Linked DNA regions of Homo sapiens: regions 2 and 3 are each linked to region 1. The links come from fine-mapping of genetic effects on gene expression. A gene starts in region 1. Each other region holds a variant in brackets. All regions are shown on one strand. Distances are from middle to middle.

Region 1 (6,401 bases):
AATGAAGCTTTAAAAGGCCCCTCCCAGCACCTGTTCGCCAGCAAATGGCAGGAGCCTGGCCAGTGAAGAAGTTGCAGCGTCTGCCGAAACCAGGTGCCTCTGAGGGGGTACCCTCAGCCAAGCATTTTTGTGGTGAGAGCCGGCTGTCTGGTTGTAGATGGCAGGCGGCGACTCAGCAGCTGCTGCTCCCACCTCCTTCCACACTGCTGTCCCCTCCTGCTGCCCAGTTCCAATCACCAGACCCCTCCTCTCCACTCCCGCCATCATCCCTCTGGCTCAACTCACTCCTCCCTGCCCCAGAAGACTCTGCACTGTCCAGGTGGAGGTGATGGAGACCAGGGGAGTCCAGGAGAGGCGGGCACAGAGCTCCCCTCCACCTCCACTCCCGCCTTGCCCTGGACTGACCACACAGGCCCAGCTCACCTTTACTCCCCGCTGCGGTTCTGGCCTCTCACTGACAGGTCTCTCTGAGTCCAGTCCAGCATCCAGGCCTCCCTGATACAGCTCCCCTTCCTCTGAGAGCCTGGCCCTGAGCAGCCATGTAGATCGCAGACCAGCCTTCCCAGTGGGCAAGACTTCTGGCTTCTGCCCTTGTTTCAAGGCAAAGCAATTTGGGACAAGAAAACCATTTCCAGTCCTCCTGCTCCCCCCTTACACCTTAAACATACATTCTCTGCTCCTGGAACCCCCTGAACCACTCCTCAACTTCCCCACCAACCAGGCTCACCTCTAGCCTATGGAAGAGAAGATCCACAGAAACAAAGATCTTCTTAGCTATGGTTTTCGGGCCAAACGTGCTCAAAATGGGCACTGTCCAATATCCCGATTGCCTGGGGCTGGGAGTGCAATGCAGAGGGGCAGACCCCTCTGGGTGCCTGCTGCTGCAGGGCTGCTCTGGAGGCTCTCTACGGCTGCCCTCACCTGTGCTGTCCACTGCCCCAGGCCTGTGTGCCACATGTCACTGCTGGGGACATAAGGGCCCTGTGAGACAAAAGGGTCCCAGAATCTTTTGGGTCATAGAGTCCTTTGGAGTCTCTTGAAAGCTTAGTGCACTCTCCCCAGAAAATGCATGTATGTGCATGTTGTTGCAATCTGCATCCACGTGCAAACACACACACAATTTGCATATCACTGCAGGGAGATGAGACAGCTCTTGTCCATGTACTCCCAGATCCCCAGATCTTAGGTTTAGAATCTCTGCTGAAACCTGTCACAGCAAGAAAGAGGAGGCAGAGGAACGTTGTAGAGCCTTGCATGTGAGTTTTGCTGTGGCATTAACTTGGCCTGTGATCCTAGCGTGTTGCGCCGTCTCTTGGGCATCAGTTTAGCCAGAGCTGTTGTGGCAGCTGATAGAGAGTCTTCAGGGCTCTTCCCAGCACTGCAGCTATGGGGCTCAATGACACCCCACCCCTGCTTCCCAAGGTCAGGCAGGGCAAAGGGAGGGGGTTCCGGGCCTCTTCCTCAACAGTATATCCTAGGGCAGAAGGTGGGACAGCCAGAAAAGGAGACCCCGGGAACTACAAGTTTCTCTTTTACAAAAATAAGAAAACTGTTGAAGCTTTAGGAAGTGCAGCCACTTCTTATTTGATTTTCTTTATTTTAAAACAATTTCCCCAAACATACTCTGTGAGAGAATAACCACCTAGCCTTTGCAAGGCTCTGGGTTTAAAGCTCTGCTCTGTGACTGCCTGGCTCTGTTACCTTAAGCAAGTCCAGTTCCCTCTCTGAACCTTGGGCTCCTCATCAATTAAATAACTATAATCCTCGATGACTTCTGTGAAGACGAATGAGGAGACCTGTAAGATGGGCCTTGTGTTGGGCTCACCCATAATGAAAAGAGGCTCCCATTACTATTCTTATTGACACTGGGAGTTGGGGGCTCTGGAGAGACTGTGGAGCCCCAGAGATGGGAATGTGAGGCCTGCCTGCAGGAGTGGCCATGAATGAGGAGAGAGTCTGAGCTGACACCTGAAACCAGGCCCCAGACCCCAGGGGCCCAGGGCAGAGGGCTTTCTGGCAGATCCCCTAGTTAGGTCTCCCCTTTGAGGCTTTGCACGTCCAGAATCTGAACTCTGACACACACCCAAGTTTCGTTCATGTTCTTTGTTATCTGTCATGGTCCACTTGGTCCTGACCCAGGGCGACCCTGGACCTTGATTCTGTTCTCGACCTCCAGGCTACCCACTGGAGCTTCATGGTGGAAATACAACCCAATCTCCTGAGTTTCAGACAGACACTTTAATCTGTAGCATCAACCTTTTTGTTGTCAAATCACCAGCACTACACACTGAGAGAATTATGGCTAGAACTAATGACAACAGCCTTCACATACACTGACAAAGTGCTGAAACAGCCCATGACAATTTCCGGCCAGCATTTTTTTAACCTAAGTTTAATGAGTTTCATCTCTCCTCTTCCCTCCCTTCCTCTTTCTCCTCTGACCCTCTCCCTTCCTGTCTTCTCCCCTAACCTGCTGTCCTGGCAGAAGTAGCTAAGGAACCACACAGAGGAACAGAAGGCAGGATGGTCTACATTTACCTGTTACTTCACCAATTCACTTCTAACTTAAAAAAAAATGGTTTCTGGCAACAAATCCTGATTGACACCTTAGTACTGTGGGCAGTTAAACTACAGCAAAGCCAGCGAGGGGCTCCTCTGTGAGTGCAAAGCATAGCTTTGGAGTCTAACCTGCTTGGGTTCAAATTCCAGAAGCCCAGCCCTTATTTGCTGTGCGACCTTATTTAATTCCTATGTGAAATGGGGCTCCTGAAGCTGTCCTTACTGTGTTTTAAGAAAGTGCTGGCCCTGGCCTGGGCACTGATTCTGGTGTGAGAGGAGGCCTCCCTCCCTCCGCCGTGCCAGGTTAATGAAAACACTGAGGCATGTTTTGGAAGTGGGAAGTGCAGGATGGGACCGGAGTCAGGAGCCCAGAAGAGCAGGGCAGCAGGCAGGCTGACCTTCGGAGACTAAGGGTGAAGAGCAAGAGACTCAGGGGCACAACAAGCCCTGGGTTCAAATCCTGGCTCCATCACCAACTCATCCGGTAAAGGTGGACAATTTTATAACTCTTTAAGCCTCAGTTTTCACATCTGAAAAGGGGATAACGAAAGTAGGACTCTCACTTGCTGTGAGGAGTAAGAGGCATATCGTGTTAAAGCACTTGGCCCAGAGCAAGGCGAGCCCTCTACAGACAGCGATTGTGAGACAGACCCCCCCTGCTGCTATTATCTTGGCGTTCGATTTCCATCAGTGAAATCAGAGTTGTGCCAGAGGCCTCTAGGCTCTCTCCCCAACTCTAGGATCAGTGCTTCTAGGAAACTGGTTAAGGACAAGGTGAACAAAAAAGGTGTAGCCAGTGGCCGGGCTCATCTGTCTTGCTCAGGTTGTAGCCCCTAAATTGCTTAACAGAGGTGCCAGGCGCAGTGCCCCCTCTCAGCAATGAGCCCGAGGCCCGCAATGCGCCAGGCTGGCGGGGGAGGGACCCTGCGCGCTGCGGCCGAAGGGCACAAGTGCCCAGGCTTCAGCGTCCCTGCCTGGTGGCAGTCCTGGGTCGGAGGGGATGCTCCATGGACGCCCAAGCACTCTCCTGCTCGTTCATCACTCACCGTCCAGTCATCGCGCAGTCCAGAAGCCACTGCATGTGTCGTGTCCTCGCTTGCACCGGAGCTGCGCCCGCAGCGCCTGCTGACCCCAGGCTTCAGCTGCTCGGGGCCAGGCCCGCCCCTCGCCCCGCCCCTCGCCCCTCGCCCCGCCCCGCTCCCCGCCTCTCGCCCGGCACGGCCAAAGGTGCCGCCCCGGTCTCTCCGTCCCGCCCCGAGCACGCCCCTCACTCCGCACCGGCCAATGGCACCGCCCCGTCCGCCCCGCTCTGGGAACGCCGGTAGGTTCCGGGTGCAGGGCGGTGGCCTAGGGGCGGCGGGGAAGATTTGGGGCCTGCGACCTGCCAGGTGTCCCCAGGCCATTGTTCAGCTCGCCGCGCGCTCCCGAGTTCCCGAGGGCGCCCCGGGACGCGAGGAGAAAGCAGCCCGACTCAGCCCCGAGAGGTTCGGTGTGCGGGCAGCGGCCAGGGACTTTGCGGGGTAGCGCGGACTCCTGGACTTCCAACAAGGGCCGCTGCGCAGGCGCTGCAATCACTGCAGGCACTTGTCTGCATGCCTGGTGGGGCTTGGAGTCTGGGGAGGCTTATCAGTAAAGCCCAGAGCATTTGCTATTTATTGCTCAAGGGGCACCTTTGTACAGTCTGGCCGTTTGCTTGGCATGGCCTCTTAGAACTCCTTATTGTTTAAGAAATCCGATCTGGTGAATAAGAAGTTAGTCTTTCTCTCCCAGTCACTGCCTCCTGGACGAATATTTGCCAGCACGGAGGCAGAGAGGACAGAAAACCACAAGCCATTTGGGGAACTGGGAACAGTTCAGTGTTTCTGGGGTGTGGGGGTGTCAAGGTGGGGGATGGGGTTGATGGAAAACATTTGCAATTTCTGCTTTACCTCACGATTCCCAGCTCTGACCTCTGGACCTGTTCTCTCCCACCCCTAACATAAATCATTTTAGTTTCATTCAGTGTGCGTTTCCTAATATTTTTAGGGTCTCATGGCCATTTTAGAATCTGATATGGATCTTCTAGAAAGTGCAGGTGGCCATATGCACCAAAATCAGCCTGGGATTTGAGTCTCATGGGTCCCTGAACTTCGACTTAGAGGGGCTGTGCTAATGCTTGTATGGCTGCTGTATGACTTATGTTGGAACCCCCACCTGCAAAAAGTGACAGGACTGAAGATACCCAGTCCAGGGGCCCTCCCGTTTCTGCGTTTGCTTGAATTTTTGGAGAATGGCCCATCCTTTGACAGCTCTGAGGCTCCCTGTGGTTGGTGACTTGTCATGACACATTTGCTCTTCCACAGCCCTCATCAAAGCTGAGACAAATAATCGGGTGCTTCCAAAGGTTTTTTAAAAGTGGGTAAAATTCAATATAACTGTCAACCTCTGAGCATGAGATCCTAAGAATTTAATCACTCCTGATAGGAGAAGTAAACATAGCACCAGGGTGACATAACAGTTTCCCTGGGCTCTCCAGAACTCGAGTGTGAATCATTCTCTCTGACCTAATTAATGCTGTTCACAGGGCCATGACTGGCTCTGAGTGAGGACTGGGTTTGGGACAGCAACCCCATGTGTCCTGTGCACCCATTGTGGGCTCAGACACTATGCTAGTGCTTTACATTGGGGATCCCATGCAATTCCCCCAGCACTCCTGGGCAGTTGGTGTTACTGCTTGCATTTTTTAAAATTTCCATTTTTATTTTAAATTTAGGGGATACACGTGCGGGTTTGTTACAATTGTACATTGTGTGGTACTGAGGTTTGGGATTGATCCTGTCACCCAGATGGTGAGCATAGTACCCAATAGGAAGTTTTTCACCCCTCGCCCCGCTGTCTCCCTCCCACTTTTGAAGTCCCCAGTGTCTATTGTTTTTATCTTTATGTCTAGGTGAACCCGATATTTAGCTCTTTTGCTTGTAAGCGAGAACATGTGGTGTTTGCTTTTCTATTTCTGCATTAGTTCGCTTAGGATAATGGCATCCAGCCACATCCATCCTGCTGCAAAGGACACGATTTTATTCTCTTTTATGGCTGTGAGTGCTTGCATTTTACATCAGACACAGGTGTCCATTGTCAGCGTCCTCCCCTCAGAAGGGGAGGGTCCATTGTCAGACCCCTCAGAAGGAGGGGTCACCTTTTCTTTCAGGGTTCAGTAGAACTGGGTGTGGTCTCCAGCTCACTTATGGTGGAGGCTACAGATACTGTTGGTTGCCAGCCAATGTCCATTTCCTTCTTTGGAAAAAAGAAAGATAGGAAAGAAGGAAAAGGACAAAAAGGAAGGAAGGAAGGAAGAAAGGGAAAGAGGGAGGGAGGAAGGAAGGAAGGACGGAAGGAAGGAAGGAAAGAAGGAAAGGAGGGAAGGAAGGAAGGAAAGGAGGGAAGGAAGGAGGGAGGGAGGAAAGAGGGAATGGGGAAGAGAGGAAAGAGAGAGGGAGGGAGGGAAGGAAAGGAGAGAGAAATACCCACTTGTCTGTAGCAGCAACATGCCAGCCCCTAGTTATGGCTCATGCCCACTTGTATTTTTCATACTCTACTTACAACCCAATAGTGGGTCATGAAATTAATTTAGTTGATGATGTGACTAGTACTTCAAAAATGCAAGGGAAAATACCAGTGTACAGCACAAATAGTAAATATAAGTTGTGTTTTGTGGAACTTTTTGTTTGCATTGTTTATGTTTCAGTTATGTGTGCTTCTTACTGTGGGTTACAGTTAAAAAAAACAAAACAGCTGTCTAAGTCTTGACAATCCTTTTCATAGCTTTTTTTCAGTGAAGCTAGAAGTGGCCATACGACCTACTT
Region 2 (6,583 bases), 20 kb after region 1:
GTGCGTAAGAAGATATAAAATTACTGGCTTACATGCATCTAACATTAGAGCCTTGAACACATTAAGCAAAACCTAACAGAACTGAAGGGACAAACAGACACATTAGTAATAATAAAGACTTCAATGCCCCACTTTGAGTAATGAGTGGAATGAATCAGATGATCAACAAGGATAGAGAAGACTTGAACAACAATACAAACCACTTAGACTTAACAGACCTCCACAAAGCACACCATCCAACAACAGGAGAACACACATTCTACTTAAGATCATGTAGAATACCCTTCAAGTTAGACAGTATGGTAGGCCATAATACAAATCCAATGCATTTAAAGGAATTGAAATCATACCAAATGGGTTTGCCAACCACAATGGAATTGAGTTAGAATAGGTATAAATTAAATAACACACTCATAAATAACCAACAGATCAAAAGAAGAAGTCACAAGGTAAACTAGAAAATACTTTGAGATGAATGAAAACAAAAACACAGCATATACCAAAACATATGAAATGCAGTCACAGCAGTGCTCTGAAATTTATAGCTGTAAATGTCTATATTAACAAATACATGGCCAGACACGGTGGCTCACGCCTGTAATTCCAGCACTTTGGGAGGCCAAAGCAGGTGGATCACCACAGTCAGGAGTTTGAGACCAGCCTGGCCAACATGGTGAAACCCTGTCTCTACTAATAATAAAAATTAGCTGGGTGTGGTGGCACACACCTGTAATCCCAGCTACTCAGGAGGCTGAGGCAGGAGAATTGCTTGAACCTGGGAGGCAGAGATTGCAATGAACTGAGGTCGCGCCATTGCACTCTAGTCTGGGCAACAAGAGTGAAACTCCATCTCAAAAAAAAACCAAAACAAAAAACAAAACCAAACAAAACCCAAACATATTTCATACCAATAACCCTACTTTCCACCTCAAGAAACTAGAAAAATAAGAGTAAACTAAGTGCAAAGTAAGCAGAAGAAAGGAAAAAATAAATATTAGAAAAGAAATAATGAAATACAGACTGTAACAACAAAACAGAAAATCAATAAAAGCAAGTGGTTTCTTTGAAAATATTGAGAAAATGGACAAAATTTTAGCTAGATTGACCAAGAAAAAAGAGAAGGCTTAAATTACTAAAATGGGGAATAAAAAGAGGGGGCATAATTATCGATTTTATGGAAATAAGAGAGATTACAAAGGAATACTATGCCAACAAATTAGATAACTTAGATAAAATGGACAAAACTCTAGGAAGACACAAACTATAGAAACCGATTCAAAGGTGAAATTTTCAAAAAATCTGAAGCTCTATATCAAGTGAAGAGTTTGAATTAGGCCAAGGCCCAAATGGCCTCACCGGTGAATTCTACCAAAATACAACAAAAAATCGATATCAGTCTCTCACAAACTCTCAAAAAATAGAAGGGGACACTTCTTGATTTTATGAGAGCAGTATTGCCCTGATTCCAAAATAAGACAAAGACATCACAAGAATAGAAACTACAGACCAGTATTCCTTATATAGAGAAACACAAAAATCCTCAACAAAATATATCAACATATAAAATATAACCCAGCACCATGTAAAAGGATTACATACCATGAGCAAGTGGGATGCATTACATGAATACAAGGTTGATTAAATATCTGAAAGTTAATTAATGTAATGAACCTTATCAATAAAGGACAAAAACCACATAATCAATTCAATAGATGCAGAAAGACCATGCGAAAAATCTAGTACCATTTCATGATAAAAACACTCAACAAACTGGAAGTAGAAGGAAATGTCCTCAATCTCACACAGGGCATCTGTGAAAAATCCACCAGGAACATGGTACTCAGTGGTGAAAGACGAAATACTTTCCCCAACCATCAGGAGCAAGACAAGAATGTTGGCTCTTGTTGCTTCTATTCAACATTGTACTAGATGTTCTAGCTAGAGAAATTAGGCAAGAAAAAGAAAAGACTTCCAAATTGGAAGAAGTAAAACTTTCTATATTTGCAGATGACATGATATTGTATGTAGATAATAACAATGTATCCATTAAAAAAAGATTGTATAATCCTGCACGGTGGCTCACTCCTGTAATCCTGGCACTTTGGGAGGCTGAGGCAGGAGGACTGCTTGAGTCCAGGAGTTTGAGATCAGCCTGGGTAACATAGTGAGTCCCTGTCTCTATCAAAAGTAACAAATTAGGTGTGGTGGTGTGCACCTATAGTCCCAGCTACTTTTCAGGCTAAGGTAGGAGGATTGTTTGAGCCTGGGAGCTCCAGGCAGTAGTGAGCCGTGATTGTGCCACTGCACTCAGCCTGGGCAACAGATAAAGACCCTGTCTCAAAAACAAAATACAAAACAAAAAGACTGTAACTAATAAATTTGTTTAGCAAGTTTGCAAAATGCAAAATCCATGTACAAAACCAATCATATTTCTACATTCTAGCATCTGAAAATGAAATTAAGAAAACAATCCCAATCACAAAAGCAAGGAAAAGAAGAAAATACTTAGGAATAATTTTAAGAAAAGAAGTGTGAGACTTGCACATTGGAAACTACAAAACGTTGAAAAAATTAAAGATCTAAATACATGGAAGGACACCCCACATTCATGGATCAGAAGATTTAATATTGTTCAGATGGAATGGAATACTCCCCAAATTTATCTACAGAGTCAGAGAAATCCCTATGAAAATCCCAGCTTTCTATTTTGCAGAAGTTGACAAGCTGATCCTAAAATTCATGTAGAAGTGCAAGGGACCCTGAATAGCCAAAACTGTTTTGAAAAATAAGAACAAACTTGGAGGGGGCTCAGACTTCCTGGTTTCGAAACTTACCACAAAGCTACAGTAATACATGGTGTGGCAATGGCATCAGGATAGACATACAGATCAACAGGCTGGAGTTGCAAGTTCAGAAATAAACCCTTTCATTTACAGTCTATTAATGTTTAACAAAGAGGTCGAGACAGTTCAAGTCAACAAATAGTGCTGTAACAATTGTATATTCACATGTAAAATAATTAAGTTAGATTCCATTTCATACCACATACAATAATTATCTCAAAATTGATCATAGATCTAAATGTAAGAACTAAAACTATAAAAGTCTTAGAAGAAAATATAGAAATAAATCTTCATAACCTTTGGTTAGGCAATAGTTTCTCAGATTTGACCACAAAAGAATAAACAACAAAGAAAAAAAGAAAAATTGAATTTCACTGAAATTAAATTGTTTCTTCCTCAAAGGACACTATCAAGAAAGTAAAAAAAGCCGGCGCAGTGGCTCACGCCTGTAATCTCAGCACTTTGGGAGGTCGAAGGGGGTGGATCATTTGAAGTCAGGAGTTCAAGACCAGCCTGGCCAACATGGTGAAACCCCATCTCTACTAAAAACACAAAAATAACCAGGCAGTAGTGGCATGCGCCTATAATCCCAGCTAATCGGGAGGATGAGGCAGGAGAATCACTTGAGCCTGGGAGGTGGAGGTTGCAGTGAGCTGAGATCGCACCACTGCACTCCAGTCTGGGTGACAGAGTGAGACCCAGTCTCAAAAAAAAAAAAAAAAAAAAAAGAAATTAAAAAGACAACCTACAGAATGGATGAAAATATTTGCCAATCATATATCTGAAAGGGTATAGTATTCAGAGTACATTAAAAACTCTTACAACTCAAAATACAAAGACAAATAATAACCCAATTAAAAAACAGGCAAAGCATTTGAGTAGACACTTCTTAAAAAAGATATTCAAAGGCCAGTAATTACATGAAAGAAGCTCAACACCATTGGTCATTAAGGAACTACAAAGCCACAGTGCATGTATGACTATAATAAAAAAAGACAATGACAAGTATTGGCAAGGAGGTGGAGAAATCAGAACCCTCATACACTGCTGGTGGGAAAGTAAAATGGCGCAGCCCCTCTAGAAAACAGTTTGGCATTTCCTCAAGAAGTTAAACACAGAGTTACCATATGACTCAGCAATTCCACTCCTAGATTTATACCCAAGAGAAATGAAAGCAGATGTTCATGCAAAAACATGTACGCGAGTGTTCATAGCAGCGTTATTCTTTATAGGGACAAAGTGGGAACAACCCCAGTGTCCGTTAACAGACGAACGGATAAACAGAAGGTAGTATATCCATACAATGGAGTATTATTCAGCCATGAGAAGAAATAAAATAAAGATACATGCTACGACATGGATGAACCTCAGAAATATCACGCTAAGTGAACAAAGTCACAAAAAAACCAGTATTATATGATTCAATTTATACGACAGAAAGTAGATTAGTGGTTGCTTAGGGCAGGTGATGGGAGGTAGGGAGTGAGTGCGAACGGGTGCTAGGTTGTGTTTGCTTTGGGGGATGATGAAAATGTTGTGAATTTACATTGTGATGAACATAGTTTGAGAATCTACTAGAGGCCTGGCATGGTGGCTCACGCCTATAATCCCAGCACTTTGGGAGGCTGAGGCAGGTGGATCATGAAGTCAAGAGATCAAGGCCATCCTGGCCGAGATAGTGAAACCTGTCTCTACTAAAAATACAAAAATGGCTGGGCATGGTGGTGCACGCCTGTAGTCCCAGCTACTCAGGAGGCTGAGGCAGGAGCATCGCTTGAACCCTGGGGGCAGAGGATGCAGTGAGCCAAGATCACACCACTGCACTCCAGCCTGGTGACAAAA[G/C]GAGACTCCATGTATTAAAAAAAAAAAATCTACTAGAAACTGTTTAGCTGTACACTTTTTTTTAATTTAAAAATTTTTTAAAGATTATTTTGAGACAGGGTCTCACTCAGTTGCCCAGGCTGGAGTGCAGTGGAATGATCTCAGCTCACTGCAGCCTTGACCTCCTGGGCTCAAACCATTCTTCCATCTTTGCCTCTTGAGTAGCTGGAACTATACGTGTGTGCCACCATGCCTGGCTAATTTTTTGTACTTTTGGTAGGAACAGGGTTTTGCTATGTTGCCCAGGCTGGTCTCAAATTCCTGGGCTCAAGTGATCCACTCGCCTTGGACTCCCAAAGTGCTTGGATTACAGGCATGAGCCACTGTGCCTGGCCTAGCTGTACACTTTAAATTGGTGAATTTTATGTTATATGAATTATATCTCAATAAAGATATTTCAGAAAACTAACAACAAAAAACCACCTTAGGGCTGATGGGAGAGGGAGACAGAGGACCCACGGTGTGACCCCCAGGGTGCAGCTGCTAGGAAATGTGGGGTCCACTATGACTTTCCTCTGAGGTAGGCATTGGGGGCTGTACCCTCCCCAGGCTCTAGCCCTGGAACCTGGAGTGGAGACAGGAGCTCTTGGACCTGAACTGGCCTTGCCACAGACGCAAGTCAGGGTGGTGCTTCCTCAGTGCCCCCTCACGGCGAGTCCCCCGTAGGGATAGGGATGTAGTGCAATCACAGTGACTTGTTTGTAGTTCTGAAAAGCACTTGCCCATGTCTTGTTGAGTTACTGCTGTGATTTGCACTTAATAGGGGAACCTGAGCCAGAGATGCGAAGGGGCTTGAACAAGGTCAGACGTGTATTAGTGGAGGTCGAATGGTGCTCAGCCTGGTGCTCTTTCTTCTTCCTGTCACTCTGTTCTTCATATACAAAATGCTCCCCTCTCTGCTGAGGTAGGGAGGGGGATCATGGCAGGGCCAGTCCTTCTAGTCTTTGCTTCTTGGCAAGGATGCAGATCATTACAACATCTGCTTTGCAGGGATTCTTCTGGACAAGGATGTGGTCATAGAGGTCACAGGCTGAGAATCAATGGAGACACGTGGTGCTCATCTGCTTATGAGGAAGATGCCACTTTCTTGCTTGGTCCACTGATGGGTGAGAATTCTGGCCTATTTAATGATCTCACTCCAGCTTTTTGTTTTTGTTTTGTAGCCATAAGAGTGTTTGAGAACTTTACTAACCTAGGTAAGATCATAATTGTCCTGTAATGCTGCACACCAGCAGACACTCTCTTAACTGATGACAATCTCCAGGAAGCCTATGTGCCTCAGAATTCCATCGCATCATCACTGGAACTCCCGGCACACACTAAGACACCTCCAAAAGGGTGCTCCCAACACACATCTCTAAAACACACCCAAAACAACACTCCACACTTGGGTTTACTGAAGTGTTTATTAAACGGGATCTGACATCTCTGCCATCACACTTTCTGGTTTGCTTCTTGCGATCTGGTCATCCAGCTCTGCTGACTGGGGCTTCGAGGACAGAACTACTCTGATGCAGAGGAACGTCAGAGGCTGGCCATGTCTGTGCCATGAGGGTGTCTGTGGCCATCACATTCCCCTTCCACAGTTGACAGGGGAAAGATGCCTGGCTTCTCTGCACTTAGGCTCTTTCTGTGCACAGGGGGCCTGCCTGAGACACCCGGCCCATCAGCCATGGGGCACGATCCTTGTCTACCACCTACCTATACCCATATCCCATATTGTTCACTATTCCCTGACTGTAGACAGTCAGGTCCTGAGGTCCTGCCTTGATGGCAGCTGAAGAAACAGCTCTGCAGCTCTCACCATCAAGGGCTTGCAGGAGTGTCTTGATTAGCCATTTGTCATTTGGTGAGACCTG
Region 3 (6,583 bases), 39 kb after region 1:
CCAGGCCAACGGGTCACCGCTTTCTGCTCAGTCCTCCCACTTTTGGGGTTCGTGTTCCTGGATGCAGAGCATGCCAGGTTGAAACAACACGGACTCGCACCGAGTCCCTCCTCTGTCCCCTGCTCTGTTTGCCTCTGGTCTCAATGTTCAGGCAGCTCTGCTGGGAGCGGCAGGCCCACCCTCCTTGGGGGGCGGCTCCTGGCCGCTTCTCCGAGGCCCACCTGGTCTTCTGTGGTTACCGGTTGGGCCAGGCACTGGGCTCATGGCTGTGGTATGCTTAGTCCAGCAGGAGAGATGTGATGTGGACTGAGAAAAGTGCATTCAGCGAGGGCAGTAACCCAAGCTGGACGAGGGACTCACCCAGGAGCTCTGGGGCCAGACAGGAGGGGCCACTCGTGGGACTATCAGGGAAGATGAATAACGATGAAGGTAGAGTGGACTAGGAAAGCAGCAGGAATAGACCTGTGCAGATGGAGGGGCCAGGCACTGCAGGGTGTGGGGGCCCCTAACAGCAGAAGCAGGGGCACAGTCGGGGGCAATGGGCAGTGCATGTGGATCAAGGCGACTGTGGGGTTCTTAAATATTGGGCTCTGCAGCGTGAGCAGAAGGGACTCGTGTTTAGATTGGTATTTCAGAAAGCTCCCTGACCCCGTGCAGATGGTGAGAGACTTCAGTGATATTTGGTGGTGGCTGAGGGACAGAGACCAGCTCCAGGTGCTCCTGGCCACTCCCTCTCCCAGCACAGGGTATCTGCTAGTTTCTTTGTTGACTTGGGCTTGAAGCACAGTTCTGGCTGTGGCTCCTGGTGGTGTGGTGCAGGTGGCTTTACTGTCCAGTGGCACAGCAGGGCGCTTGGCATAGAGGCCCAGAAGAGTGGAGGGTCTGTTCTGTCTGGGGACCCAGAGAAGGAGGCTTCCCAGGCATAAAGCAGAAGGCATGCCCTGCCATTGCATGTTGATGTTTGGACTTTATCTGGGCAGTAGGGGGGCAGAGGTGTGGGCTGGCCAGGAGGTGTCTGGGATTGGAAGCTTCCTGGGCATGTCAGCCCTGTTGCCCCTCACTCAGGTGCCACCACACGCCATGTAGACAGTAGGCCCTCTCCATACGTCTTGTTTCCTCTGCACATCTCCCAAGTGGGAACTGCCAACTCTAAGGTCTCCCAGTTTTCTCAGCGATGTGCTGGCTGCCATCTCTCAGGAAAATTGGCTAAGAATGGTTTTGCTGTGAAGACACACCTGCTAATCCCTGAGGAGTGAGACCGACATATTGTGAGGAAGCCCAAGCCAGCCTTGTAGAGAGACTTGTAAAAAGAGAGAGGGAGAAATAAGAGTGAGAGGGAGAAATGAGAGTGAGAGAGAGAAAGAGAGAAAGGAAGAGAAAGAGAGAGAGAGAGAGAGAGAGAAAAAGAGAGAGAGAGAGAGGCACAACAGCCCCAGCTGGTTCAGCATTGCACAGGACAAATGATGGAAGAAGTTATCTTTGACATTCCAGCTCCAGCAGATGTGACATAGACTGGAAGTGATGGACCCAGACAACAATCAGAACCAAAGCACCAGATGAGCCACCTCAGCCACGTGAGCCATGCCAGCCACCCTACCTGTGACCCCATCTGTGGCCCCAGTTATCATGGAGTAGAGGTGAGCCGCCTCCACTGAGTTCTGCCAGAATTTCCGAATCACAAAGTTTTGAGTATAATCAAATGATTGTAGCCTTACATCACTACGTTTTAGAGTGGGCTGTTATGCAGCCATGCAAGGTTAACTGGAAAAGCAGCTAATTCAGTCATCTAGCCACCTGAGGTTTTTGGCATAGAAGTCTCTGTGTCTGGCCTGACGCCTTAGAGTAAACATTATATTGTGACTCCTCAGGAGTAAGCATTTCTGGGTCCTGCAGCACCTGCCCCATAGCCTTGGAGATTCAGGCTCCTAGGAATACAGATGGTGTCTGGGGACTTCCACTGGGTCATGGAATCCTATTGGTGGTTTTATAACTTAAGACTTCATAGAGGATCTGTGGAGGAGAATCCTGTATCATCCAAAGCAGGTCCCTCCCACAGTTGCATTTTGCAAACATTCCCAGTAGAAAAAGTAAAGAAAGCAAGAAGTGAGATTCCTTGCTGCAGGAATTTTGTGAACCGTATCCAACACTCACCCCAGAGAGCCATGTTGGGACTGGCTGTGGAAGCTCCTAGCCTGGTGTGCTAACTGGACTGTACTGGGAACAAAATATTTTTGGAAGGTATCACAGTTCCACATGACATAGATATAGGACCCCAAAGTGTTTTCACACAGGGCCTGGAGTTTCCCAAAAGTTTTTTTTCCAGGGGACTGTTCTCCAGAATTGGCAGGAGGTGAACATGAAGTGTGGCCTGAAATTTAGTGGGGGCTTGAATGAAGAATGGGATTGTCACAGGTAAGAAGGAGCTCCTCTCCAGTCTGCTGAGCGTCTGTTCCCGGAGACTGCACAGGTGGGCCCCCGCCCTCTCAAAGGCCTCACTTCAACCTGTGGATGAGGACAGCCCACTCCTTGTTTTGTGGAATTGGACCTTAGGTTTCTGCCAGGTTTCAGATTTAGGCGGGGCTCTCTGTTAAACACAAAGAAGTTATGGCACCCGGATAACTAGGAGCAGAGTGGGCCCAGAAGGACACCAGGGCTCAAAATTAGGGAGGCACACCTCCTAAAATTACAGAGGTGCTCATTCATTAAGGAGGTGTTCTCCCTAAGACTAAGAAGATATTTGCCATTAAATTAAGGAGGTGTTCTACAATGAAGGAGGTGCTCCTCTTAAAATTAAGGGGGCCCTCATTGTAATTTAATGTGGCCTTCAGTCTAAGCCCAAGGTGGTACTCCCTCCCTCAGGCGCAGTGTAGGCCCTTCGTGGGCCCTGAGAGTGGTAGCTCTGGCCCTGGCATCTAGAGATTTGGGAGGCCCAGAGTCTGAGGGCTTCTAGCTCCTCTTGGAATTTAGCCTGCGCTCTGGCCTTCCATACTTCTCACAGGGCAGTGGGGCTGGTGTCTTGGAAGCTCTGCCTTCACAGGGTGCTAGTCCAGTGTGGAAGTGGTTGGCCTGAATCAGCAACTCACTGGAACAGATACCCCCAGGGCATTACCCTGAGCTGGGACCAGGGACTGAAGAGCTGATTTTTGGATTAGCTGATCAATGATCAGGAGCCAATCAATGGAGACAAACAATGGGACAAAGGCCCTGCTACCCGCAGAATCAGAGCCTCATGACACCAAATTCTCTACAAGAAATAATCGCCCTGAGATGTGCTTCAGTCCGGCTGTGCTGTCTTTCCTGCCCAGGTGGAGGGGCAAGGGAACACTGAACAGCACTGCTTGACACGGCCATTAGTGGCCTTTGACTCCTTCCATCCCTCCCTATTATCCCACCTCAGGCTCCCCAGCTACTCTCACCCCAGCCCAACAGAGGTACCTTATGCCCACTCCAGCACAGCTCACCCCACGCCTCTGTCTCACTCCCTGCATGATCCCAGGAGGTGCCTTGCATCGCACCTTGATGGAGCCATTCATGGACAAGCCTGGCCTCTCTCATCTTGTTAGCTCCTTCCCTCCAGTCTCTGTCCCTCCTGTGTGGGCCAGATCCAACCTTGGTACAAGAACTTTCTTCTCTCAGGGTCCAGGGCTTGCTTCTGTGTTGCTTTCCTGAGCTGTTTGTTGTAGTTCAGGCTTAGCAGAGATCAGAGATCCTGGGCCAAGAGCCTGTGGTACAGCCCTGGGCAGGGCAGCCACTGTGTGAGTATCCTTCTCATCCTGGAGCTCTGGTCTCAGCATGGGTTGACGAAAGCTAGGAGGGGGCTGCACCAGAGCAGAAAGAATATGGGGCCTGCATCAGAAAAGCTGAGTCCTGCATCCTCAGGAAAGTGATTAACTCTTTGGTCTGCATCTTATTCTGGAAAATGGGGAAAATAAAAACATGCAAAATGGTGCCGACCACTGCTCAGTCTAAGTAAATGAGAGTGCTGCACAAATGCAGACGATGGCTAGGAAAGCTATTATAAGAGGCAGGCG[GT/T]TCCCATCAGTATTCTCCAGTGGAAGGAGAGGGTTTATTCTCATCCTTTGCTCCCATTAACACACTTGTGGGTTTTTTTGTGGCCAAAAAGCTGTTCCCTGTGCACCAGTGTTGCTTGTTGTTCACTAATTTACTTTGAGGTCCCTTCTCAAAGCCCAGTTGGGATATAAGTGACCCAAACTCCCATCTATCTCCACATCTCTTGTATTAGCCCTCCATAACCCTGCTAGGGTCCCCACGGGGCTCAGGCCAGCATGTTCCTGAGGCTGGGGCCATCTGCGGGGCTGCCTACTGAGGGGATATTCCCCTGGCCTCAGGCTGCTGCTGCTTTTGCCATAGGGCTGACCTCATGATCCACTGTTGCTTATCCGTTCTGACTCCATGGGTTGAATTGTGACATATGTCTTGCATTTATTGTGATGCCCTTGGTGGTAACATGGGACGCTTCACAGTCATCAGAGGCCACACTAACCTTGGCACTGGATGCCCTGGGCATTGGATGAGAATTTTGTACTCACTGTTGCTGAGGGCAGCCTCCGAACCCACCGCGTATATTTATTGCTTCTTTTCATTCTCATCTCCTGCTGGACTCAGGGTGTCCAAAGACACCTCAGGGAAAGACGCTCCAGGCTGATGACAATGGGCGTGGATGGTCCAGGAGAGGTGGTCACCGCCAGGGTAGAGGTGAAAAGCTAGATTTGTACCATTTCCAAGACTATGGAGTTGCTGGAAACAGTTGCTGTGAATTCACTGGGACAGTAAGGTAGTAGCCACAGGCTTCTTAGCTCAGAAGTTGTGGCAAACAGTAAGCATGGTGGGGAGGTTTACCTACGTGTGGAGATCAGTTCAGCTGATATACATGAGCCAGGGTTCAGAGACAGTGTGGGAAAAGGGAAGGATTTCATGGCAGATATTTCTGGACATTCAGTTGGAAGAGACTTCAGATTGAGCTCCTATTGAAACTGTATAGCAATTTGGGGGAGAACTGATGTCTTAACGATATTGAGCCTTCTGACCCATCAACAAGATGCATCTCCATTCATTTAGATTTTCTTTGTTATCTCTCAGCAATGTTTTCTAGTTTCTAGTGTAGTTTGTTTTACATCTTTTGTCAGATTTATCCCTAAATATTTCGGATTTTCAATGCTATTATAATTTGTATTTTTAAAGATTTCATTTTCTAATTGTTTGTTGCTAATGTATGGAAATACAGTTGATTATTATATATTAAGCTTGTCTTCTGCAATGTTGCCATTCCCTCCATTAGCTCAAGTAGCTTTTGGGGTAGATTCTATTAGATTTTCTACAGATGATAACGTCATCTGTGAATAAAATTTTTCTTTTTCCTGGACAATCTGTATGCATTTTGTTTCTGTTTCTTGCACTGGCTAGAACCTCCAGTACAATGCTGACTGGACGTGGTAGAGTGGACACCCTTGCCTTGTTCCTAATCTTAGGAGGAAGCACCTGGTCTTTTACATTTAAGTAGATGTATGTTTTCTGTAATGACCTCTTAAGGTTGAGGGAGTTTCCTTCTGTTACTAGTTTGCTGATGATAGTTTTATTTTAATCATAAAAGAATGTTGGATTTCGTTTAAAACTTTGTGTCTATTTAGATGATAATATGGTTTTTCTTTTTTAGTTTTTAAATATGATGTCTTAGTCCATTTCGGCTGCTATAACCAAATCCCATATACTGGGTACCTTATAGACAACAGAAATTTATTTCCTACAGTGCTGGAGGCTGGGAAATGCAAGATCAAGATGCTGGCAGATTTGGTATCTGAGGGACCCCTTCCTTATAGAAAACTGTCTTCTCACTGTTACCGCACATTGTATGATAGAAGGGCCTAGGGAGCTCTCTCAGGTCTCTTTTATAAGGGCATTATTTCCATTCAGAGAAGGCCCTACCTCCTAATACAATCATGTTGGGTGTTAGGATTTCCACATATGAATTTGGCTGGGGGGACACAAACATTTAGTCCATAACACATGGTAAGTTACATTAATTGATTTTTCAAATATTAAAACAACCTTGCATTTCTGAGATGAACTCCACTTGATTATGATATATCATTCTTTCAATATATTTGTATTTGTTAAAACTTTGCTTAGAATTTTTGCATCTATATTGAGAAGAATATTAGTCTATAGTTTTCTTGTAATATCTTTGGTTTTGGTATCCACATAAATACTAATTTTATAGAATGAGTTGAGAAGTATTGCCTCCTTTCAAATTTCTGGAAGAGTTTGTGTGGAATAGATATTTCTTCCTTAAGTGTTGGTAGAATTCACCTGTGAGGCCATCTGTGCTGATACCCCACTCTTTGGTGATGAGGAAGGACTCTGCAGACCCATATGGTTCATTGGCACTACTGAGGATAGTGTCTCCCACGTAGAATAGCATCTCCCTTGTAAGTACCCTGGTATGGTTTGGCTGTGTTCCCACCCAGATCTCATTTTGAATTCCCACCTGTTGTGGGAGGGACCAGCAGGAGGTAATTGAATCAGGGGGGCAAGTTTTTCACGTGTTGTTCTCGTGATAGTCAAT

Evidence for each region. PIP is the estimated chance that this variant, and not a neighbour inherited with it, causes the effect.
Region 2: its variant is the best candidate, but not a certain one, in a credible set for the expression of RASSF4 in whole blood (TOPMed, PIP 0.74).
Region 3: its variant is the best candidate, but not a certain one, in a credible set for the expression of RASSF4 in whole blood (TOPMed, PIP 0.80).

Annotation. Positions count from the first base shown.
Region 1 is chr10:44,957,071-44,963,471 of GRCh38, reverse strand. RASSF4 (Ras association domain family member 4) reads right to left here and starts at 3,670. Exons shown (of 11, transcript NM_032023.4): 1 at 3,606-3,670. It overlaps TMEM72-AS1 (TMEM72 antisense RNA 1), which reads left to right and starts at 3,783. Exons shown (of 8, transcript NR_033842.1): 1 at 3,783-3,880. RefSeq lists a silencer at 3,700-3,919 and an enhancer at 3,697-3,991.
Region 2 is chr10:44,936,539-44,943,121 of GRCh38, reverse strand. TMEM72 (transmembrane protein 72) reads right to left here. Exons shown (of 5, transcript NM_001123376.3): 5 at 6,112-6,583. The region is part of intron 1 of TMEM72-AS1 (TMEM72 antisense RNA 1); the gene reads left to right. Among named protein-coding and RNA genes, the nearest start is that of TMEM72-AS1, 20 kb to the left of the region's middle. The variant G/C (reference allele first, on the strand shown) is at 4,686.
Region 3 is chr10:44,918,135-44,924,717 of GRCh38, reverse strand. All of the region lies in intron 1 of TMEM72 (transmembrane protein 72), which reads right to left. TMEM72-AS1 (TMEM72 antisense RNA 1) reads left to right here. Exons shown (of 8, transcript NR_033842.1): 2 at 1,492-1,637. Among named protein-coding and RNA genes, the nearest start is that of TMEM72, 10 kb to the right of the region's middle. The variant GT/T (reference allele first, on the strand shown) is at 4,032.